3 linked regions of the Homo sapiens genome follow. The protein of the gene in region 1 interacts with the protein of each later gene in a biochemical or structural test. Each region holds a gene or a part of one and is shown in the gene's direction. Other genes may lie near its edges. The genes, in order: ARHGAP32, SHC3 and NTRK1.

What was found.
Region 2: the proteins of ARHGAP32 (region 1) and SHC3 form a complex in vitro, tested with the Homo sapiens proteins (one study listed by BioGRID).
Region 3: the proteins of ARHGAP32 (region 1) and NTRK1 form a complex in vitro, tested with the Homo sapiens proteins (one study listed by BioGRID).

The regions. Positions count from the first base shown.
Region 1 is NC_000011.10:128,970,072-128,982,715, reverse strand, and holds part of ARHGAP32 (rho GTPase-activating protein 32), read left to right. Parts: intron 1-779; coding exon 780-887; intron 888-1,154; coding exon 1,155-1,300; intron 1,301-1,967; coding exon 1,968-2,163; intron 2,164-2,860; coding exon of another isoform or gene 2,861-2,867; exon of another isoform or gene 2,868-3,793; intron 3,794-3,800; coding exon 3,801-3,946; intron 3,947-6,081; coding exon 6,082-6,153; intron 6,154-7,713; coding exon 7,714-8,592; intron 8,593-9,283; coding exon 9,284-10,263; intron 10,264-11,556; coding exon 11,557-12,644. UniProt on the Homo sapiens protein: GTPase-activating protein (GAP) promoting GTP hydrolysis on RHOA, CDC42 and RAC1 small GTPases. May be involved in the differentiation of neuronal cells during the formation of neurite extensions.
Region 2 is NC_000009.12:89,002,783-89,010,974, reverse strand, and holds the end of SHC3 (SHC-transforming protein 3), read left to right. Parts: 3' UTR 1-2,797; coding exon of another isoform or gene 2,798-3,457; 3' UTR 3,458-5,204; downstream 5,205-8,192. Other genes in the region: uncharacterized protein LOC124902206, read right to left, coding at 2,798-3,457. UniProt on the Homo sapiens protein: Signaling adapter that couples activated growth factor receptors to signaling pathway in neurons. Involved in the signal transduction pathways of neurotrophin-activated Trk receptors in cortical neurons.
Region 3 is NC_000001.11:156,877,865-156,882,350, forward strand, and holds the end of NTRK1 (high affinity nerve growth factor receptor isoform 2 precursor), read left to right. Parts: intron 1-1,257; coding exon 1,258-1,498; intron 1,499-2,134; coding exon 2,135-2,293; intron 2,294-3,592; coding exon 3,593-3,778; 3' UTR 3,779-3,986; downstream 3,987-4,486. UniProt on the Homo sapiens protein: Receptor tyrosine kinase involved in the development and the maturation of the central and peripheral nervous systems through regulation of proliferation, differentiation and survival of sympathetic and nervous neurons.

The DNA.
Region 1 (12,644 bases):
GGGGTTTCACTGTGTTGCCCAGGCTGGTCTTGAACTCTCGAGTTCAAGTGATCTGCCTGCCTCAGCCTCCCAGACTGCTGAGATTACAGGCAATAGCCATCACACCCAGCCCGTTGTCTTTAGTAGTTTTACTCTGGGCACTATTAGGTAGGACGCTTTGAGACATGCTAGGTGATAGATAATACCTCTGTGTGTGCATGCGCACAGACACACACACACACACACACACACACACACACACGGCACTTACCTGGTTTAACTTACATTTAAGGTGATCATGTCTTGTTTTCAAAAGTACTCTTCCCTATTGTTTAATCACAATATATGTGGAATTGTTTAAGTAAAGCAAATTTTAAGTAGTCAAGATAAACCAGAATATGAGGATTTGAATTAGGCTCTTTATTTCAAAAGCATATCCTTTGCTCAAATATTCTCCCCTTGATGCCTATTGGAATTTTTCTTGTAACTGTTTTAAGGCTTTTGAGACATTACTGTTTTCTTTCATAGAAGTGTTGAAATCCTTTCCTGTTAGTATGTCTGCTGCAAGTAGAATGGCATAACTTCAAAATATTATTTGTTCCAGAAACTAGCTTTGGTGGAAGATTCACTTCTAATAGTAATATTTCAACCTGTTAAGCAGGAAAAAAAAGTTCTCTTGGGTTTGTATGGTCCCTTTCTTCATTTTGCTATTGCAAACTTAGGAATTAATTAGCAGGCTTTTATGTTCTATACTGCTGCATCATGTTTCTTTCTGTTAATATGTTGTATTTTATTTCCAGAACACTGGAGTTCCTGATGAGACACTTGTCTCTTCTAGCTGACTATTGTTCCATCACAAATATGCATGCAAAAAATCTAGCAATTGTTTGGGCTCCAAACCTGTTAAGGTAATTTGCATTTCACTTATTAATTTTAGTAGAACTAATCCTAAATAAAAGGCTGATTCATCAGTGTTCTTTAAGGAAACTTTTAAAAGATTAAACAAATCTGTTCTTTTTATTTGCATCTCCCTAAAACAGGCAACTGGGCCTTAGCTAAGGGACAGTAAAAGTATGATTTCTTCCTCTGTTTGTCTGAGATTTACACGTTTAAAAAAAGAGGCCCTTGACGACTGCTATCTTTACAACTCTGTGATGAAAATGTTTACCTCACAGATCAAAACAGATAGAATCTGCCTGCTTCAGTGGAACAGCAGCTTTCATGGAAGTGAGGATTCAGTCTGTGGTTGTTGAGTTCATCCTGAATCACGTTGATGTGCTGTTCAGCGGCAGAATCAGCATGGCCATGCAAGAGGGGGCAGGTACGGCTCCGATGGCCCTTCCTACCAGGAGGGTGTGTCTCAGCTTCCAGAGGAGTAGCAAACCATGCATTTCTTATTGCAACAACAAAAACGTGTCACTGGTATAAGGCAGCTAATAATGTATGGCTGCTTACCAAAATGCACAATTTGACAGTTATTTTGTGTGTATATAGTGAATACTACATATGAGACCTATTGTGATCTAAGTTCATGACACATTAAAAAACTTGTCGTTCATTATTGATGTGTATTAAAGTATAAAGTGGAACAGAAGAAGAAAAATTGCTTCCAAAACTAAAAATATCTGAGTGATTGATCACCTTTCCTCATATCTTTTAAGAAAGGAAAACAGTTATTAAAGAGTTTTATATGTGTGTATGTGTGCCACTGGTGTATCCCCTTCAGTTTTTTATTTAATATAAAGCTTTTCTCATATCTTTTAAGAAAGGAAAACAGTTATTAAAGGGTTTTATATGTATGTATGTGTGCCACTGGTATGTCCCCTTCAGTTTTTCATTTAATATAAAGCACTATGGTTTTTGCTATTTAACATACTTGAAGAAAATTTGAAACAACAGATAGGTAGATAGATGGAGAGATAGATACTAACAAATTGAATACACTCACGTAGTTGACTCTCTTCATCAGCTTCCTTTTCTTTTTGAAGCTTCTCTATCAAGGCCCAAGTCCCTCCTGGTATCCTCTCCATCCACCAAACTGCTGACATTGGAAGAGGCCCAGGCACGAACACAAGCTCAGGTCAATTCTCCAATTGTGACGGAAAATAAATATATCGAAGTAGGAGAAGGACCTGCTGCACTTCAGGGGAAATTTCATACCATAATTGAGTTCCCACTTGAAAGGTAAAATTTGTTAAATCCTATTTTGGGATATGATTTTCATAGCTATGTCCTATTATTTTCTTTTAGTTTGCTTTTAATTTTGTATTTTAGTATTACTCTATTGAATTCTAGGCTAGTCCCAGAGAAACCTGTTTATTCGAATATGGATGATACTTACCGCTTCATGGGGAATGATGCAAATGATTCTTGCTTTACAATGTCATGTAATTTTATAAAAGAAGAACATCAGTGGTATAGGGAAAATTGTTTGGAAAAATAAGGATATACTGTCACTATATGGGTTGATTTTGCTCTCTGAACTATGTTGTTTATAAAGTTGTTTAGAAATAAGCTGTGTTGGAAGAGTTTGTTCAGAAAGTCAGGAATGGACAGTGACTTGTTTGACATTGGTTTCACATTAAGGTTAGAAGAGATTAATAGTGTGGTCTCCCAGCCAACAGCATCAGCATCACCTGGTGATAATTGCTAGAAGTGCACATTGTGCAGTCGTCCAGTCACACCCCAGACCCGCTGAATCAGAAACCCTGGGCGTGGGACCCAGCAACTGGTCATTCATCTAACTTTCCAGGTGATTCTGATGTCTGCTAGGACTTGAGAACCACTGCAGCAGTTCACTCTTTCAATGTCCCTTCCAGCTCTGAAATTCTATTACTCTAAAGAAATGATAATAACATGGTTTCTGTATCTTCTTTACTAGGTTATAGTAGGAAGACTAATGTATGTAAAAGTTATTTTTGATGTCTCTGCTACTCCTTTGGCTATTACACATGAATGTAAGGATTTTGATTCTCTGGATTGGGTAGTACTAATATAACTTTAGAATTTGTTCTTCCCGTATTTTAGTATACTCCTCTAACTTCCTTTCACTTCCTGTGACTAAAAACATTCTATCAGCAAAAAGTTGGAACATACTCTTACTTTGTCATCCTGAGTTTGTCTTTAGCATCTTGATTTTATATTCTAGTTCCATAATTTACTCAAAGATTTATTTATGGAGTAGTAGTTAAGAGAGTAGATACTGGGATGTAGATTGGCCTGGGTTCCAATTCTGACTCCATCATTTAATAGTTTTATAATGTTAAAGAAGTTATTTGAACTTCTTAGTGTCATAATTTCCTTGGCTGCAAAATGAGAATAATAGTACTTACCTCATGTGGTTGTATCTGATTTAAAGGAGATATTACATATAAGGCAGGTAGCACAGTGCCTGGCATTCAGTATATGTTTGTTATTATTCTTAATCCTTGTCTTCTTTGTTTGCCTTTATTCTCTACTCACACCTAAAATCATTTTCTTTAACTCTGTGTTATTTTTGGACACTTAATATTTCCTATTCCCAGATACGTCTTATTTTCACTTATTTTTCAGTTTGTGAGGTTGGATCCAAATATGAAGATATATATAAAAATGATCTTTGTGAAAATATTTACTAGTACTAAAATCTGCATGTTTACTATCCATTTTCTGCTTTGGCTGCACTGTGTAGAGTGTGCTGTCTGGAAGGTGGATGTTTGCTTACTGTTTCACTTATGCTTCTCCAGCCTGTTTGGTTCTTTCTGTCATGTGTTCATTTCTTTTCTGTAAGAAAAGACAGACCCATGGCTATCTTAATGTTGATTATTTTTTCTCTTTCATAGAAAGAGGCCTCAAAATAAGATGAAAAAGTCTCCTGTGGGTAGCTGGCGTTCCTTTTTCAACTTGGGGAAATCATCATCTGTTTCTAAACGAAAGCTGCAGCGGAATGAGAGTGAGCCTTCAGAGATGAAAGCCATGGCTCTGAAAGGTGAGTGCCTGGGAGATTCTCACTTCTGCTGCTGTCATGATGGTCTTCGGTTGTTCTGGGCACGTTCTTCACATATTGTTATGATCTGCTTCCATAACGTGTTCACAGTTGTGTCACACATACAGAGTGTCTTCTCTCACCGATTCTTTATTCCTAAATTGAAGAGTAACATAAATTATATATAAATATGTAGAAGTATGCAATTTCTTTTCTTAAGGAAACTATATAGATTATATATAGTGTAAATGTGATTAAATTCACATATACCTTGTATATTGTTGTAAATAAATACTGCTATGGTATCTAAATTTATTGATCTGTATTTTTACAGATCTAAAAAATTTCAAAACTGTTTCAACATAACTTTCAAGTTTATAACTCTTTTAACTAAAGAAGGTATTTTTTATTAGATGTCTCATTAATAGAGTATCTTATTAGATCAAATAAATCTATTACTGTCGAAAAAGTACTCTTTTAAAAATAGTTTAAAAGCCATATTCTATTGATATTAACAACTTCTGAATCTAGGAAGGATAGTAGTACTTCTTAGATAATGTTAGAAGTATAATGTTCAATTCATTTAATTCGTCATTCAGTTTGCAATCATGTAGAGCATGTGCTAGCTATTTTGATAGCAGGCTCTGCAGATAGAAAATTAGGGTAGTACCTCTGCCTTCCAAGTCAAATTGGGAAGTCATACGTGTGAGAAAGTAAATTTTAGTGCAGAATCATAGTTATTGAAATAGTGGTTTAGGCTAGGTACAGTGGCTTACACCTGTAATCCCAACACTTTGGGAGGCCAAGTCAGGAAGATCGCTTGAAGCCAGGAGTTCAAGACCAGCCTGGGCAACAAAGTGAGGCCCTGCATCTACAAAATAATAATAATAATAATAATAATAATAATAATAATAATAATAAATTGCAAATAAGCGAGGCTTGGTGGCACATACCTCTAGGCTTAGCTACTCCGGAGGCTGAAGCAGGAGGATTACTTGAGCCCAGGAGGTTGAGGCTGCAGTGAGCTATGGTTGTGCCACTGCACTCCAGCCTGGATGACAAAGCAAGACATAGTCTCTTAAAAAATAAAAGAAATAGTTACATGAGACAGTTGTGGTAGGAATTGTCAACTCTTGTAGAGGAGGGACTAGTGGTTAGGAAATAACAACCTTTGATATGGGTTTTCAAGGAGAAGTAGGGATTCACCTAACTGACAGGAGACTAAGAATGGTATTTCAGGAGATGGGAGCAGAGTGAAAAGAAGCCAGCTGAGGGCTGAATGCTGGAGAGAAGCAATGTTTAAAGGTGGGAAAGGAAGAATTGTCATGAGAGGAGAGTAAGAAGAAATGATTACAAAGGTAGGCAGAGAAAAAAAGAGATGCATGCTATCCTCAGCAGGGGAGGAGGGGGTTAAAAAGAAAGTGTTCGTAGTGCTGCCAAGGGGTTAAAGAGGATGAAGATATTTAGCGAATAAGATTCACATATGTACGTAAAGTTACCTGTGTTAGTATCCCAGAGTTCCCATAACAAATTACCACAAGTCAAGTGGTAAAAAACAACAGAATTTTTTTCCCTCATGGTTCTAGAAGCTCAAAGTCTGAAGTCAAGGTACCAGCAGGGCTGTGCTTGCTCCAGAGGCTCCAGGGAAAAATCCTTCCTTGCCTTTCCAAGCTCCTGGTGGCTGCTGGCATTCCTTGATGTGTGGCAGCATCCCTCCAATCTTTGCCTCCATCTCCACATGGCCATCTCTGTGTTTTCTTACGAGGACACCAGTCATTGGGTGTAGGGCCCACTCTAAATCCAGTATGATGTCATTCAAGATATCATATTGGTCTTTAGGAAATGTAAAAGAAAGAAGCATCTTAGTTAATCTCTCTGCTCAAATTCATAATCCTTTAGAAAAGAGATTTTTCACACGGGAAACCATTTGAGAACAGTATAACACATTATATAATAGAGTACTAAATTGCTGTCAAAATGTGCAGTATAACACATTATGTAATAGAGTACTAAATTGCTGTCAAAATGTACAGCTAATCACTCTCAAAAGTTTAAATGTATCAAGAAAAACACCGATCCCATTAACCACATATGTAACAAATAAGAAATCTTCACACTATGTGTTTTTTATTCTTCAGGTGGCAGGGCAGAAGGAACCCTCCGTTCAGCTAAAAGTGAGGAGTCTCTTACATCTCTCCATGCAGTTGATGGTAAGACTAAAAGCATCAGTCATTTTATTCTATAATATATTGCATAAAGGAATACTGCAATTGAGTATATTTTTATATATCTGTGCTTAATAAATAGGCTATTAACTCATTTCCTAGGAATACTAGTGTCTATTTAGTATTATTCAGATTAAAATTCATTGATGCTTTCACATGGAAGCAGTCTTTAATCTTTTCATTTTTGGCATGACTGCTATTCAGTTTACATAAAAGTAGCCAAAATATTTCAAGTTAACTATTTATATTTATTAATATCTAGTGAAAACTTGTGTTATTACTGTTTCCTTTAGATTTTACAATGGGAGCATAAGAGTTTTCCAAGATTTTCAATTAAACTAGTCAAGATAACCTACAAAACAATGCAGCAAGCTAGGTGGATACTAGTGTTAAGCAGAAGATATTTGTAAGGAATTAATTTTATGGGTGATCAATACATTTGTGAATATATATATATATATATATATATGTTAGACAGAGTCTCGCTTTGTTGCCCAGTTTGGAGTACAGTGGCGCAATCTTGGATCACTGCAACCTCTAACTCCCGGTTTAAGTGATTATCTTGCCTCAGCCTCCCAAATAGCTGGGACTACAGGCATGCGCCACCATGCCCGGGAGCATAATTTTATAAAGTGTATAATTAAGCAGTTTTTATATTTTTAGTAGATACGGGGTTTTGCCACTTAGGCCAGGCTAGTCTCGAACTCCTGACCTCAGGTGATCTGCCCACCTCAGCTTCCCAAAGTGCTGGGATCACAGGCATGAACCGCTGTGACCGGCCAATATATTTATATTTATTAAGATAGTTTCTGCCTCTTTAAATTACTTTTTAACTATGGCAATTAAAATAATCCTAATAGAATAGAGAGTTTCTTTTTTACCAGTTGGATATTTAGCAACATCGTAAAATTATGTAATACTCTCTGCCACTCTTGAAGACTGCTTGGGAAACTTAAAACCTATTCTTAAAGAAAAAAATGAAGTTCTTGTTTAGTATCTGAAAGGAATTTTTTACTAAATATATGTAAATACTTTATGGGATTATGAAGATTTTTTAATTGAGAAGTTCAATTTATTTAGAAATTTGAATATTGTAAGGATGTTTCCCCACAAAAAAAACATCCATTTTGCTATTATAGATTCAAAATGCCACTCAAAGTGATTAATTCCACCTCATAAGTCATATGAGGCCAGTGATAAAATAAGACACAAAGAAATGAAAAACTTGCCCAAAGTCACACCAAGAATCAGTGTTGGATTAGTAATAGAATCCAAGCATTCTGAGTTCTTTTCCTCTCCAGACCATGAAATACTGCATTCGCCCTCTGATTCTATCACATGTTTGCTATTTAGCATTTGGTTTTGGAGTTCTGTTATCTCAAGTGTAAATGATCTGTGTGCACTGAAAGAATTTTCAGAAAGAAAATGAGAAGTAACACTTCCTTCACCTAGATAGTAAGTTACTGCTGTGCTGAGTAGGTGACTTACCACAGCATTCTGTATCTACGATGTTCTTACTTTGACACTGTTATTCATTTTTTCCAGGTGATTCTAAGCTCTTCCGACCCAGAAGACCCAGATCTTCCAGTGATGCACTGTCTGCCTCTTTTAATGGAGAAATGCTGGGGAACCGCTGTAACTCCTATGATAATCTGCCTCATGACAATGAGAGTGAGGAGGAAGGAGGGCTGCTTCATATCCCAGCCCTTATGTCTCCTCATTCAGCTGAGGATGTTGACTTGAGCCCACCAGACATTGGAGTAGCCAGCCTGGATTTTGATCCAATGTCATTTCAATGTAGTCCTCCTAAGGCCGAATCAGAATGTCTGGAGAGTGGTGCTTCCTTTTTAGATTCACCAGGATACTCCAAGGATAAACCAAGTGCCAATAAAAAGGATGCAGAAACAGGTAGTAGCCAATGTCAGACTCCAGGAAGCACAGCAAGCTCTGAACCTGTCTCTCCTCTTCAGGAGAAACTGAGTCCATTCTTTACCCTGGACTTGAGCCCAACTGAAGATAAATCATCTAAGCCATCCTCCTTTACTGAAAAGGTCGTCTATGCTTTCTCTCCGAAGATAGGACGGAAATTAAGCAAATCACCTTCTATGAGCATATCTGAGCCAATTTCAGTGACCCTACCACCACGGGTGTCAGAAGTCATTGGTACAGTCTCAAATACCACAGCTCAGAATGCATCATCTTCAACCTGGGACAAATGCGTTGAAGAAAGGGATGCCACAAATAGATCCCCCACCCAGATAGTAAAGATGAAAACAAATGAGACAGTTGCCCAAGAAGCATATGAATCTGAAGTCCAGCCCCTGGACCAGGTGGCTGCTGAAGAAGTAGAATTGCCAGGGAAAGAGGATCAGTCTGTCTCAAGCAGTCAGAGTAAGGCTGTAGCTTCTGGACAGACTCAGACAGGTACCGTTTGTTTTCCTCCATTCTTTCTTTAAGTTAAGAGGGATCTTCAATCCTGTGTGCCATCTGTGCCTTTTAAGAGAGAAATTTGTCCACAGCTAGCCTTTAATCAAAGAGAATGCTTTTCTGGGTGGTGCTGATGGCTCAGAGCCCTAAATTAAAAGCAGTCCAACAAAACTCCCCAAAAGGGCCAATGGTCCTGCTTCAAATCTTCACAAAAGTCCCCTTATCTCTTTGGACGGTGAGAATTCGTGGATAATTTTTGCACAACTGCGTAGCTCTTGATTCTGTTTTTCTCTTCTAATAAAATATCTTTATTGTAGCCTTCCAAGTTAACAAGCCAGCTACACCATCAAATGTAAAAACTGTTCATAATAACAGTCTACAAGCACTTGAAGCTTGTTTTCTAAGCAATCTTTTCTGAGCCAGGTGAGGGACATGCTTTTTTTCCCCCCCATCTCTGTAACAATTCAAGAAGAGATTGCAGTCTTTATACACTGTTTGTTTTAGTTTTCCTTCTGAACCAGATGTGTTTTCAACAGCATTTGCATGTGGGATAGAAGATCATGGATTGCCATTTTGAAATATGGAAGGCACCTATTTTTTAATGATCACATGGGGAGTGTTTGGCTTTCCATTTAGGATAACGTAAGCTACCTTTTCACTCTCATTTTTTTTCCCAATTTCCCACTAGGAGCAGTTACCCATGACCCCCCTCAGGATTCCGTTCCTGTCAGTTCAGTCTCTCTTATCCCACCACCACCGCCTCCGAAAAATGTTGCCCGAATGTTGGCGCTAGCATTAGCTGAGTCCGCACAGCAAGCCTCAACTCAGTCATTGAAGAGACCAGGGACCTCTCAGGCTGGGTATACAAATTATGGAGACATAGCGGTGGCTACAACTGAAGATAATCTGTCCAGTTCTTACTCTGCAGTTGCTCTAGATAAGGCCTATTTCCAAACCGATCGACCAGCAGAGCAGTTCCACCTCCAGAATAATGCACCAGGAAACTGTGACCATCCTCTACCAGAGACAACAGCTACTGGGGATCCTACCCATTCCAACACAACTGAATCTGGGGAGCAACATCACCAAGTAGACTTAACAGGGAATCAGCCACATCAAGCATATTTATCTGGGGACCCAGAAAAGGCCAGAATTACTTCAGTTCCCTTAGACTCAGAGAAGTCTGATGATCATGTAAGTTTCCCTGAAGACCAGTCTGGGAAGAACAGTATGCCAACTGTCTCCTTCTTGGATCAGGACCAGTCTCCACCCCGTTTCTACAGTGGAGATCAGCCTCCTTCTTATCTTGGTGCAAGTGTGGATAAACTCCATCACCCTTTAGAATTTGCAGACAAATCTCCCACACCTCCTAATTTACCTAGCGATAAAATCTACCCTCCTTCTGGGTCCCCCGAAGAGAATACCAGCACAGCCACCATGACTTACATGACAACTACTCCAGCAACAGCCCAAATGAGCACCAAGGAAGCCAGCTGGGATGTGGCTGAACAACCCACCACTGCTGATTTTGCTGCTGCCACACTTCAGCGCACGCACAGAACTAATCGTCCCCTTCCCCCTCCGCCTTCCCAGAGATCTGCAGAGCAGCCACCAGTTGTGGGGCAGGTACAAGCAGCAACCAATATAGGATTAAATAATTCCCACAAGGTAAGAAGGGGAAGATATCAGTGAGATGAAATATACTATTACCAAAGGTATGTCACTTTTCAGCAGGGTGTGTTGTTATCTTTGAGTCAGACACAACAATTACTTTTAAGCCCTGTGGCTGGTTTCCATGAGATAGTTCCCATTTGAGGTTGGAGTCTGCCATTACCTTGATGCTGGCTTTTCCCCAGGAAAGGAGTAGCTCCTAGATGACTATAGCTTAACTGTACCTGCTCCCTTTTCTTCCTAAAGTGTCTCGGTAGTTTATTCCAGTAACACAAAGAGATCAGGATCAAATGAGACAAAGTGGGCTTTACGGTTGTGGGTTGCTTTTTCTTATTTTTTTCCAACTCCATCACTGACTCATTGTGACTTTGGGCAAGTCATTTACCTACCCTCTGCCAATTATTCACAGTTACACAATGAAAATACTTCATTCTCAAAACATTCGTAAGACTGTCTGCCTTGCAGACTTTTTGGAAGTATAAGAGATTATAGTGCCTTGGGATTTTTTGTTACTTTCCTAGCATTCACCAGCAGTTTGTCCCATAGTCAGGTGCCTGTTTCAATGAGAGAATGTAGTATGCAGAATGCTAAGGTTTCTTCCTGAATTTCCTCATATTTTAAGAAAGTGCCACAGGTTGTTTTTCTTCTATATGGTCACCTTGAACTATTAATAGGACTTAAGATTTTAGACCTTAGTGGAGGATGCTGTGTTTACTGCTTCTCAAGGATAGCATGTTTTCAGTATGAGGATTATCTTTGGCCAGACTAAGGTGGAATCAAAGGTAGGAGAGAGGCAGTAGCTTCTGATTTGAATATTGCCTTTCCCTATGTTTGAAGCCCTAAAACTGCTAACTGTGTACAACTGTGAATTTCAAAAGTCTCCCCAGATGATAGAATTAACTCTTAATTTAACAAGATGTCCTTTGTGTTGAGACTGAGCTAGACTAATAGACCGGGTATGTATTTTTAAGCTCTACAGCATTACTTGACTAAACCTCTCTTTTGGTTTGTATATTAAAATTATGCCATAGGCAACCTCATCTCGCATTTAAAACCTCTCATAAATTAGAAAACTTTGAATGGTTCTCCAAAGATAATACTGGGTGTTGTACAAAATAGCAGCACAAGCCTTCTTTTCCTAGAAATGGGTACAGATTCATTGCAACCACATGGCTTGGGAAAGTTCAAGCTGCTACCCAACCAGCCTTAATTTGTGAGTTACAAATTTAATAGTACTTGATTCATAGAGGGAACAAAAAATAGACCCATAGTATTATCATCTTTCAATAGGTTCAAGGAGTAGTTCCAGTTCCAGAGAGGCCACCTGAACCTCGAGCCATGGATGACCCTGCGTCTGCCTTCATCAGTGACAGTGGTGCTGCTGCTGCTCAGTGTCCCATGGCTACAGCTGTCCAGCCAGGCCTGCCTGAGAAAGTGCGGGACGGTGCCCGGGTCCCGCTGCTGCACCTGCGCGCCGAGTCTGTCCCTGCGCATCCCTGTGGCTTTCCTGCACCACTGCCCCCCACCAGGATGATGGAGAGTAAGATGATTGCTGCCATACACTCCAGCAGTGCAGATGCCACCAGCAGTTCAAATTATCATTCCTTTGTCACTGCTTCATCCACCTCTGTGGACGATGCATTGCCTTTACCACTTCCTGTCCCACAACCTAAGCATGCTTCTCAGAAAACAGTTTACTCCTCCTTTGCTAGGCCCGATGTCACCACTGAACCCTTTGGTCCAGATAACTGTTTGCATTTCAATATGACTCCAAACTGCCAGTACCGTCCCCAGAGTGTACCTCCCCATCACAATAAATTGGAGCAGCACCAAGTGTATGGTGCCAGGTCAGAGCCACCAGCCTCCATGGGTCTTCGTTATAACACATATGTGGCCCCAGGAAGAAACGCATCTGGACACCACTCCAAGCCATGCAGCCGGGTCGAGTATGTGTCTTCTTTGAGCTCCTCTGTCAGGAATACCTGTTACCCCGAAGACATTCCACCGTACCCTACCATCCGGAGAGTGCAGTCTCTCCATGCTCCGCCGTCTTCCATGATTCGCTCTGTTCCCATTTCACGGACAGAAGTTCCCCCAGATGATGAGCCAGCCTACTGCCCAAGACCTCTGTACCAATATAAGCCATATCAGTCCTCCCAGGCCCGCTCAGATTATCATGTCACTCAGCTTCAGCCTTACTTTGAGAATGGCCGGGTCCACTACAGGTATAGCCCATATTCCAGTTCTTCTAGTTCCTATTACAGTCCAGATGGGGCCCTGTGTGATGTGGATGCCTATGGCACAGTCCAGTTGAGACCCCTTCACCGCCTTCCCAATCGAGACTTTGCTTTCTACAATCCTAGGCTGCAAGGAAAGAG
Region 2 (8,192 bases), on another chromosome or scaffold:
GCCATTCCTGTGAGCCTCACAGACACATGGGGAAAGTGAGGCTGGGGCTGGTGCCACACCTTCCTGGAGGCCATGTTGTCATCTGGCTGCAGAGCTCTTCTGCTCACTCAGCATTTCGTGAGCCCTGCTGTGTGCCAGCCTGTGCTTTGAGCTCAGGATTCCAAGGCAAAAGCAATGGAGGCTCCTCCCTGTCTAGCCTGGGCCCCTCTTCCCCACACTTTCTCAGGCCACATCTCTGCCTGGGCAGGGCAGGGAAGCTGAACAATGAACGCAGCGGGAATGGCATTAGGCCTTGCGTTCCAGGGCCTCAGGCTTCCAGGGCACAGTCGCTGCTGCTGTGCTGGGCCACCCTGGTCCTGCAGAGTGCACCTGGGCCCTGCTGTCCCTCCAATGGGCACCCCCAACACTTAACCCCAAACTCTATGTCTTCTGGGAGTACAAGGTGGGGGCCAGCAGTCCTAAAACGGCCCCTCTGCCCTTACCGAGTGGCCCTAGAGACCCCCACCCACCTCCCCTAACCCCACGAATGAATCAGCTGTGCTTCAAATGACATCTCTGTCCCACGGAGGCCGGCTGGGCCTCTCATGGGGGTGCTCATTGTGGTTTAAGTCAGCTTTGATTCTTGACCTCCAAGGCTGCCTCTGAGTAGCTAACCGGAGAATCGGGTGGGGAGGTGAAAAACACCGCAGTCAAATGACTCAATCTTTAATCCTGTGCTTAAGACACCACTGTTGCTGTTTTTTATATTTGAAGCACCCAAAGACTGGGCGTCCGCTCAGCCTTGATGAGCGAGCAGCTATTTTGTCAGGCCATCTATGATGTTGGGATAATGGACAAAGGCCTGATTGGGCCATATATGGCCTTCTTTAGGGCCTCCTGGAGGTGGAGGAAGTTGTGGGTAATTTCTAATAAAGACGGGAAATGACAAGCCGTGTGTGTAGGTAAAGTCCTAACTTAAAAGGAAGGACAGGCCTAGGGAAGGGTGGACCCTAAAGGGCCCATGTGCCAGGGGAACAGTGGACATGTGTGTCCAGCCCAACCTCCATGTCTGGTGCTGGGATTCTGAAGGTGGCCCCCAGCTCCCAAAATAAAGCTTTCCTTTTCAGTAGCGTCCGACACTTGGGTAGCTTCTTTCTATAAGCAATGCTTGAAGATGGACGTCTGGGTCCTCATTTCCTCCAAACTGGCTGCTACCTGAAGGCAGTCACACATTTCTTTTCTGTTGGGCTGAGCTGGGCAGAAGCCTCGGACTATAGGCCTTTCCAGGGCAGAGGCAATGCGGGCCACGAGTAGATACCTCCATCCAGCCTCCACCCTGGCACACCCAGAACGGCGTGGACTCAGGCGGGTTGCTGGATTTCTCTGAGCCTTGGCGTGCTCTACACTGCAGGGCTATACATGTTCCCAGCTTGAGGGCGTGCTGGGGATTGACAAATATATGAAACATATAAGCGCAATGATTTTCTAAAATTGTGCATTCCCAGCGTGCCCATTGGTTCTCTCTCGCTGGCCCAACTTTGTGTGCTGTCCATAAATCCCTTTCTGTGGACGGTGACAGTAGGATTGGGAGTGAGTGGGAAGATTGTGGAAAGATTGCAAAGAGGTCATTGCAGGACTCAGACAGACCTTGCAGTGGGTTTCAGAGTAATACTCAGGTTCTCCCATGGAACTTTCAAAGCTGGCTCTAAGAAAGATGAAGAGGACAAACCCACTCCTGGACATAGTGCCAACCTAGAACTGTCAGCTCCACACAGGATCACAGGGAAGGGAGCTTGGTAAGACAGCCCAGTAGGGGGCCCTGCTTTTCAGAAGAGGAAACTGGAGCCATGCAAGGGCCTGGGGATCAACTTAGAAAAGAGCACAGGACTCACAGTCCTGGGCCTGCACGTAAAGCTAGCCCCCTGCCCCACGGAAATGGCAAGCAGTGCTTCCCTCCAGGGGTTCTACATCTGTGCTCCATCTCAAAATGCATAAAAGCCTGAGTCATTCAGATGGGAGAGACAGTGTTTCTACTTCCTCTTAGTTGGGGTTCCTCCAGAAGGAGACCCTGAGAGAGGACTTGAGGTTATGTAGTTTATTTGAGTGAAGATCCCGGAAGTAGGGAGAGAAGGAAGCTGACGGGGAAGGCGTGCATTATCAAGTAAGTTACCGTCATGTGCACAACTGGAGCTGAATCCCACCGGGGAACCCCGAGAGACAGAGCTGACACCCCAGAGTTCACCCAGCAAGGCGGGGAGACAGCTGGGGTATTTATTCACCAAGTCTATCACTTATGAAAGGCTGTTTCTGGAAACAATTTCTGACTGGCCCTGCACACACCTGAGCATACTTCCTAAGCCGGGGATGTCCCTGAGCTGAGACAGGCGTTCGTGACAAGCAGACTTCGAGTGGAAGGCAGGCATCAGAACCACCCTGTGAGCTGGTTCAGACAAAGATTGCAGGCCCTTCCACCCCCCTGGCCCCGCCAAGTTCCTGACTCCCTAGGTCTGGAGTGGGGCCCGGGAATTTGCATTTCAAAAAATCTCGAGGTGATGCTGGTGCAGCTGCTCTGAAGTCTTGACTTTGAGAACCACTCACTAGTGAGAGTTTCCAGCCCTTACCTGTCTCTTATTGATGGCTTTCCCCCCTCTAATTTATAATTATGCTTTCACACCACTTCATGTCACAGATCCCAGGGTCCGTGCTGTGAATTTAAAAGTGGAGAATTAATAAGCATTTATAACTCCATGCAACCATTGCTGGCAGCTTAAATGCCATCTGCCAGCCATAATTTATTTATAATGGGGTTTATACATATTTATAAGTTTGCAAGCAACAAATGCACAGTTTTAAAACTGGCACATTTTATAGCAGCCAGAAAAATTGCAACTTTATACCAGGACTTGTGAATGTGAATTGCATATGTATATACATATACGCATATACTTACATTGATTAAAAACGGATCTGCATCTCTGTACACACGCAGATTGGCTCTGTGTTGTGCACCTTGGGACTCCTCCCTGGGCTTTGGTTTTACAGCTAAGTAGGAAGTCAAACAAACGTGAAGAATTTGGGAATTGGCAGGCTGTGGCATCAGCCATGGAGGATGGTCCTGGATGCTGTAGGATGTGAGATCCAGCACAAAGAGAACAAGAACAGGACATGAGGACCACAGGGATTGGGGGAACCCACTGTGGGAAATGACAGAGAAGCCAGTGGGGGAAGACAAAGAAAGAAGAAGGTGGAGGCAGAATAAAGGTGAGAAGAAGGGAAGGGGAGGATAAAACAAGTCCAGATTTAGATCTTCCTTCATGCAGCCATGCATAGCTGTCTGAGGCCAGCAGGGAAGGAGGAGAAAGGGAAGGTGTGGTGGAGGAGGCTGTGCTCGTGATGTCATGCTTTCGTGTATTCCCAGGTGCAGCTGCATATACTTGGCACAGTTTCTTGGGATTTCTAGCCAGTTTCTTGGCCTCATTTGTGCATTAGTTAATATGTGGCTGGCCCTGTACTGGGATGGTGGGATAGAGAAGTGAATGTATGAGGCCTCTGCCTGAGTTTATAACCTAGAAAGAAATAAAGACACACACACACAAAGGTGTTGGAGTGTGACAAGCCTTAAGGTACCCGTGTGTCCAAGTAAAGTAGAACCAGCAAGGGTGGAGTGCCCAGGTCAGTCTGGGGACTCTGGAGGCTTCGCACTGCAGGCGTCAGATACTGAGTGTTAGTGGCACGGAGAAGAGTGTGGAAGGCTCAGGATGGGGGTGGACAGCCTGGAGTTGTCACTCTCAGTAGAGATGCTAGAAGGGGCGGGAGGTGATCCCAGCCTCCCTTCTTTCCTCCTCCTGGCTGTCACAGATGCTCTGAATTGATGAATCCTTCAGGCCAAAAACACACAGGCTCCTTCCCTAGGTCTGGAAAAATGGTTCTCGCTGAAAAAGCACCAGGAATAAAATCTCATACAATTTTAGGTGTCTATTTTGTTGTCTCACCTTGAAATACTGCAGACAGAAAAACATGCACATGGGGAGCTGTGGTCCTGAGCTTTGAGGTAATGAATTCCCACTCATGTGATCATTTTTACCATAACCAAAGTTTCTAACCATCAAAATCAAGTGACAATTAAAACAGGCATTAATGGATAAATCCGTCTTTAAATATTAATGGGGTTAATTTTGTTAACAGCTATGTGTTGGTTGCAAGTGGAATGTTCTCTGTTCATTTGACTTTTGAATATAACTTGTTCCAGAATATTGTAAAATTAAGTATGTGAATGTTTCTTTGTATTCAGAATTAAACATTTGGTGTTAAAATCCCAGGATTAGGAGACAACTCCATGTAAATTTAATGTGTAATAATAAGATAATAACTTTTTAAAAAGCATTTGGATGGCAAATTATACATACTGACAAATGAATATTATCTGAAAGTTGTTTTGTTTCCATTAACTTTTGTGAAACAAAAAGAATTACTGTAACAGTCTATGTCTTGGCGTATTGCCAATTCACCACTTTCTACTTTGTGCTGGAACAGAACTGGCTTTTTTGACATCCCTGAGGAGTGGAAATGCAAAACGAATTTCAAGTTCTCTAATCTTTGTTCTATGACAAATGAAAAAACCTAAGTTATCTGGTGTTTTGGAGATTTGAGAATACAGCAGGTGAAGAGAATTAGCTTAAATTCCCTCCTCCCTTTTGATAAATCCACAGGGATTCCTTCACTCTGTCAGGAAATGGTGTGGTTTCCAAGCATTAGCCCTTCATGATCTGTCTGGTGCATTTCTGTGCTCCTGGGATCGCCAAGTGCAGGCACGGCATCGCATCCCCAGGTGTCATCCTGTGACCCAGGAGGGGAAGATGACACACCCAATTTAGGTAATGCTGCACTTCTTGTTATAATTGGTTATTGGAAAATGTGCCTTTATTATCAGAACAGTGGTGTGCGCATTTCTGATTATGGAGCTAACTTTTGGATATCTGACTTAGATACTAAAAACATTTGGGTGTTGCAGTTTTGCACTTGTAGATACAACTTAAAAGCATGAAACTGGTGATTTAATTAGATGTTTTCTATAAAATGCACCTTGTTACATTTCTGTGAAAGGGTCTTACCAGCGTGGAATAACTGGCTCAAGGGTTGAGAGAAACAACCATTTTCTAAACAGTTAATTGTTTAAAGGACTATACATGTAAGTCTGCAGGCAATAAAGGCTGTTGTGAAAAGTATCTTTCATTTGGATGATGGATTTTGTATTGCCTCACAAAAGAGAGGAGGGGAGCTTGAAACTTTTCTCTAAGAAGTAGGTATTTTCAGTGATTCCCTGGGGGACTGCTTAAAAAACAGTCACAACAAAGCCTCGTCCCATTCATCAAGGCTGCGGAATGAAAATGCATCCGGGCAGATGTACTCCTAGAGAACTCACCTTACCTTCTAGCTCTGGGGCGGGCAGCTGCGTCCTCACTTGCGTTGGGACATTTCATCATGAGTTGTAACAAGCATCGCTACCAGAACAGTTATGCCGAGCACTGGCCTCCTCTTTACATAGCAAGTGGGACAGAGAGGCTAAAATGGACCGTTTGTGTGGGAGAAAGCTAGTGTGCAAAGGTTGGTTCTGACCTATTCTCTCCTGCTGCATAAACAACAGCAAATGGGGCAGGACAAGAGGTCCCATGTCTTTGAGCTGCACTTTTATTACCATGGGTCTTAGAAATTTCTCCCTATCAAAAGACCATTCTCAAAATAGTATGACCTACCAAAATTGGTGTAAATAGCACCCAAGGCACAGACGCTTCATTAAAATACCACCTATGATAGTGGGTAAGAAGAAAGGGGAAAGGTTATTTGGGGTTCTGAATGTGGTTTAATTCCTGAAATGCTAAGAAACACAGGTGGGTAGCAAGCCTGCAACAACAGTGCGCACCCCTGCAGTGGGGAGGGCACCCGGTGAAAACGATAAAACAATCCCATCACATGGACTACGAAGAGTGGGTTTCCACAAAGGCTTTTGGTTTTATTATTATTATTTTTAACAAACATACATTGGAAATAGTAAAGGTTTCTAATTGAAAAGAGACCTAATGCATAGTTTCTCTGCAGCATAGAAGACCACCTGTTTCCAAACTTCAAGGTTAGGGCTTTGAAACATTCCCTGGTAAATTATCTCCAGCTGGCTAGCTAGTTAGGCATATTGGTGCACATTGGTATCAAAGGTGATTATTTTTTGCATTTAGCAAATGAGCGCTATTACTTTTTTGATGTATTTTTAATTCAGATTGCTCAAAAGTCTTGTTATTTCAAGGGAGCCTTATGTCATACCACAAATATTGATACCTCCTAGTGGAAATGGTGGCTGTGGGCTCCCTAGTAGAGTTAATGGATGAAGGCTGAGATACTTAGATACTGCGGACATCAGGGTTATGGAGCAAAGTGTTATGAACAATAGCTACAGAGAGCTCCAAGTCTCCCAAAGCAACTCATAACTATAACACAGATAAAGTTCCAAAGTCATTTCATCACCTATGTGAAAATGCAATACTGAATGTTTTGGCTCTCTGATGCATTTTGTTGTTGTTTTATTTATTATTATTATTATTTTTTGAGACAGAGGGTCGCTCTGTCACCCAGGCTGGAGTGCAGCGGTGCGATCTTGGCTCACTGCAATCTCCGCCTCCCGGGTTTGAGCAACTCTCCAGCCTCAGCCTCCCGAGTAGCTGGGACTACAGGCACGTGCTATCGCATCCAGCTAATTTTTGTATTTTTAGTAGAAACAGGATTTCACTATGTTGGCCAGGCTGGTCACAAACTCCTGACCTCAGGTGATCCACCCGCCTCAGCCTCCCAAAGTGCTGGGATTACAGGTGTGAGCCACTGCGCCCAGCCTGTTGTTGTTTTCTTAATCCAGTACTTTAACGTTTTACTGTCCTAGAAATGCCCTGTGTTTTCTCATGCTATTTCATAAGAGAATATGCTACTTTTCATTGATGTCAAGAAGGCAACAGAAATGCTCCTGGGGAAGATCTCCTTACAAATAGGTTTCATCTCATCAGTAACAAAAATTAGAAAAGCCTTTGGTCAGCCCATGGAGGTGAGTTACTCTGAACCTATGAAAATGTCTCTTTATAAGAGCAAATTGCATCAGATGACAAAACAGGAATCAATTTCTCTTAGAAAAAGTTAGTAATGTGTTAAGACTACTCTTTTAGGTTTTATTCAGGCAAATGCTCACTGAACCTAAAATACTTTAGGGGACTCTGATGGGAGGTTCCTTTGAACGCTGGTTGGTTTTGTCCTTGTTTTTAAAGAGAACTCAACACAGCAACTGTGTGCTTATGAAAGTTCTACAAACGTGTTCACTTTTCTTTCCATCTATTTGTATAATACGTACAATCCTTGGGGAAGAGCATGTACAAAAATGTCTTCTAAGTAATCCCTTTACAAGGTAAACAGACTGCTACGGGTTCAACTTATGTTGAAAAGTAAAATTACAGCATCACATAGGTATTATTACATTACTCTGAAGAATGCATAAACTGCCAGATCACATTTTCTAACCTGAAAATTAAACTTCTTTCACTGATAGTCACGATCAGTGCCAGCTTTCAGGATGCTGTGAAACTGCCGGTGGCCACAGCTACTTAGCTGTGATGCCACGGGGGATTACTGACTTGCTGCTTTTCTAATATAGAAACAAACTCAACATAGAATCAAAGTGCTGTCTTGTGAATCTCTGCTCATTTCCTGGACAGCTTCCATTTCCTGAAGCAGACCCCTGCCCCACTGGCGTGGGAAGGTGAGCCAGGCCAGCCGTCTGCTTCTGCTTCTCCTTCATAGGCTCTTTCTTTGGCCCATCTGGGGGCACAAGCTCCTGGGTGATCTTGGCTGGCTCTTCTGTAATTTGCAGAAACCTGAAAACCATCACATAATTGGGCTTTGGAATACGATTAAAATTACGCAGGGACAAATGACTGAAAGGACAGGACACAGGGCTGGTGTGGGTCAGACCCACACATCTGGGGCCAGCCTTGGACAAGCCTTTTTGGGGAATTTGAACTTTTAAAACTTGGTTAACATGAGAATCATGTCAGTCTAAGGAGACCAGGGATGGCATGTCCACCTAGTTCAAAACAATGTCCTTGTACTGGGGGTTCAGTCTGAATCCACTTGTATAACCTGTTACCTGTGTGTTGTATGGAGATTCTATGTAGGTACCACAT
Region 3 (4,486 bases), on another chromosome or scaffold:
GAGGGAGCCCATGCAGGGTGTGGAGCAGGAGGCGAGGCCAGACCCAAGGTTGAGTGTGGAGGAGGATAGGCACAGAGGAGCCCAAGAAGGCCAGGGAGGAGCCTATCTCTTTGCTCCCAGACATGGCATAGGCTCAGTGCTGGTCTTGGGGACACAGGCTAGGGAGATACCAGCATCTGGGGCCCAGGCTGTGGGAGACGAGGCTCTAACTGCTGGATGGAACACTGGGGGAATCAATGGAGGGAATCATTAATGCTCAGAGATGAGTCTGGAAGACTTCCCCTAGGAGGGACCATCTGTTCCTTCTCCCCTCCAGGCCTTTGTACTTCCAGTTCCCTCTGCCTGGGGCATTGGGCCTCCCTCCCTCCATAGAAAGATGGAGACAGACACACAAACTCTACCCCTCCCTGCCTCAGCTCCCTTCGAATGGCTTCAGGACTTGAGTCTCAATTTAGGTGTCCCTTCCTCTAGGAAGCCTTCCCTGGCTTTTTCCATTCCCACCCGTGGTGCCTGCCAGGTGCCCCTCACACTGCACTGCCATGACCTGCTTATCTGCATCATACTCTGCACTGTAGCCCCAGTGCTTGGCACACTGGAAATGTTTAACAAATGCCTCAACTAAACAAATGAGGAGAAGATTGGCTAGTAGGAAAGGGCATTTTTGGCAAAGTGATCAGTTCAGGCAAAGGTTCAGGAGAAGGAACATTGGGGAATATGGATGAGTGACTAGGACTGACCCGAGTGCTCGCTCTGGGGAGAAGGCGGGCATCCTGGACACCTTCGAAAGGAAGGAAGACCCCGTAGGAATGGCTGGACACTGAGGGCAGAGGGGAGAGAGACAGGACAATCAAGGACTCCCTGGTTTCAGGGTCTGCCTGGGTGGGAAGGGTCCCTTCCCTGAGGCAGGGGCAGGCTTGGGGAAAGACACCGAGCTCCAATTGGCAAGGGCTGAGTCTGACATGCCTATGGCAAGGGATGTAGGGGCCAGTGGGCATCTGGAGTTCAAGGAGCTGCCAGAGAGGAAGGCATGGATGTGGGAACCATGGGCTGTCTCTGGTGGGAGCCCTGGAGGTGGGCACACCTGTTCCGCTCCTCCATCCCACCCCTCTGGACAGCTGCCTCTACTGTTCTCTCAATCCTCCACTTCCAGGTCCCCAGTCTCCTCTCCCATCACACGCGGCTGCTGGGGATCGCCTTCCTCAGGCTCCTGGGAGTTCTATCCTCCCAGCCTATCCCCTCTCCTTTTCTTGTTCACAGATCCCATGGACCTGATGCCAAGCTGCTGGCTGGTGGGGAGGATGTGGCTCCAGGCCCCCTGGGTCTGGGGCAGCTGCTGGCCGTGGCTAGCCAGGTCGCTGCGGGGATGGTGTACCTGGCGGGTCTGCATTTTGTGCACCGGGACCTGGCCACACGCAACTGTCTAGTGGGCCAGGGACTGGTGGTCAAGATTGGTGATTTTGGCATGAGCAGGGATATCTACAGCACCGACTATTACCGTGTAAGGGTCCTTTGTCCCCAACGCCTTCCCCTGCATCCAAACTGTAGACACCCTGGATCCCAAGACCACTGAGAGCCTGCCCTTGCTAGGATGGCTGCATGGGTCTGAGATTCACTGGCTCTGGTTTTCAACCTACCTCCTCGGCTCCTGGTGGAGGGGGCTCTGTCTCCTTCGCTATCCCAGATGGAAACAGCACCTTCGGTTTTTGCCTCTTAGACCTGAGAGCCACCACTGTTTGTTTATTTATTTATTTAATTTATTTTTTTGAGACGGCGTCTCACTCTGTTGCTAGGCTGGAGTGCAGTGGCACGATCTCGGCTCACTGCAACCTCTGACTCCCTGGTTCAAGCGATTCTCCTGCTTCAGCCTCCCGAGTAGCTGGGATTACAGGCCACACGCCATCACGCCCAACTAATTTTTGTATTTTTAGTAGAGATGGGGTTTCACCATGTTGGCCAGGATGGTCTCGATCTCCTGACCTCGTGATTGCCCACCTCGGCCTCCCAAAGTGCTGGGATTACAGGCGTGAACCACCGAGCTTGTGTATTTATTTTTAATGATGGGGCTGGGGTAGGCTGTGCCTTGACGGGCTGTCCCAGGCGCCCCTGGAATTGATGCAGTGTCCGCCCGTGGCAGGTGGGAGGCCGCACCATGCTGCCCATTCGCTGGATGCCGCCCGAGAGCATCCTGTACCGTAAGTTCACCACCGAGAGCGACGTGTGGAGCTTCGGCGTGGTGCTCTGGGAGATCTTCACCTACGGCAAGCAGCCCTGGTACCAGCTCTCCAACACGGAGGTCAGCCCCGGCCCATGGTCACCCCTTGCTGGCCTCCCCGTCCCATGCCCCTTCAGGTTCCTTTTTCAGGGAACTCGGTTCCCCTTCTGCCCCTCTGCCACAGCCTGTTGGGGGGCCCTTTCCAGCGCCGTGCCCACACTGTGTCCCCTCCACTGTGGCCCTTTTCTTCTCTTCCTCCCTTATTCTTGCCTTCACCTACTGTCCTAAGCCCAGGCCCAGTTGGCCCCTGGGGGAACCTCAAAGTGCTTTGTACAAGGAGCCCAGACCCCCATCCCTAGCTGCATTTTATAGACCTAAGCAGGAATTATCAGAGTGGAAGGGACCAGCACGGGAAGAGGAACCCAGCACAAGAAGGCCCAACACTGCAGCAGGACGGCTGGAGGTTAGACTGTCAGAAGGACAGTCCTACCCCCTCCCCCTGCCCTCCTAGCTGGCCACAGCCAGAGCAGGCCCCAGGTGTTCTGTCTCCCAGAGCAGCTGCCCCCACCCCCTGCTTGGCTCGCAGCTGTCAGTTTCCATTTCTCCTCCTAATGCAGTCTGCTCCCCGGAGGCTGGTGGGGTGGGGGAGAGGGTTATAGATTTTAATTTTCTCAAGCACTGAGAGAAGAAATGGAATTAGTGCCGCCCATAACCCAAGTCCTCTAATAGGGAGGGGGGAAGAAGGGGAAAAGAGGCTCCAGGCCCCTTCTCCAATCACTCCCTGCCACCCTTTCTCCTTTGGATTCCTTGGCTGCTTTAGCAGTTCTTCCTAGAGTCTAACTTTGATCTTTCTTGCTGCAGTTTCTTTTTGGGAGAGCTAGTCAGTCCCACAGAGTGGTATCCCTAGAAGGGAGAAGTAAGGATTGCCCTCTTCTTTAAAATGAAAGCCAGCTATTTTTCACGCCCTTTAACTGCAGTTCTGCTCTATTTTCTTTTCTCTCTCTGGAGCTGAGAGTCAGAGGGCCCTTCTCCTCCTCCTTTCAGCCCCCAACACTAAGCTGATGGATTGATAAATACCTCAGCCCCTCGCCTTCCTCAACCCACCTGGCAAGTCTTCTTAGGATCTGATCCCAGTTTTCTGGAAGCAATCCTACCCCAGCCCAAGCTTCCCATAGTCGAGCCTTAATCCTTCTCACTTCTCAGTGTCAGAGCAGAAATGAATCCTGGGGTTGACTGTGTCCATTCGGGTTATTAGCAGCTAAGAAGCCCAGACGAGTAGTGTGAGCTGCCTTGGGAGCCTCAGTGAGGGCACTGGGACTGGCCTCACTCTCTTGCCCCCAGCCTAGTGGGCTTTCTCCTCTGTCTCTCCGGTGGCCCCAGGCAATCGACTGCATCACGCAGGGACGTGAGTTGGAGCGGCCACGTGCCTGCCCACCAGAGGTCTACGCCATCATGCGGGGCTGCTGGCAGCGGGAGCCCCAGCAACGCCACAGCATCAAGGATGTGCACGCCCGGCTGCAAGCCCTGGCCCAGGCACCTCCTGTCTACCTGGATGTCCTGGGCTAGGGGGCCGGCCCAGGGGCTGGGAGTGGTTAGCCGGAATACTGGGGCCTGCCCTCAGCATCCCCCATAGCTCCCAGCAGCCCCAGGGTGATCTCAAAGTATCTAATTCACCCTCAGCATGTGGGAAGGGACAGGTGGGGGCTGGGAGTAGAGGATGTTCCTGCTTCTCTAGGCAAGGTCCCGTCATAGCAATTATATTTATTATCCCTTGGCTGTGTCTCTTGCCAGTTATTGGGATGACGTCGTTCCAGGAGGGAGGCATTGGGATTCAGGTAGGGGGACAGCTCTCTGGGATCTTCCCCCACTCAGGTTCCCCTCAGCTGCCTACCCCTACTCCATGGACCTGTCACTCTCACCTTTGACTATAGTTTGGATCCCATTCCCATGGTCACCTGGCTCACCTGCTGGTAAGGCAGCCTCTGGTCAAACTTCCTAGACCTTGAGAGCCTAACTGTCAATCTTTGTAGTTCATGTTCAGGAAGGCTGGGCTATAGTGGAAGGGGTGGAAGTTAGATGTACTGGTAGGATGGGAGCGTTGATGGGGTGTCTTCCTTGTATTGGTGTGTCCGGGACAGAGCAAGCACGCAGCAGCAGATGAGAGAGAAACATGTGTGTGTGTGTGTGGGGTGATGGGGGGCAGGAAAGGGACGGAGCTGGACTAAGGATTGATGGAGGCAGGACCCCTTGTTCCTGCCCCTCTGTTACTCTTCT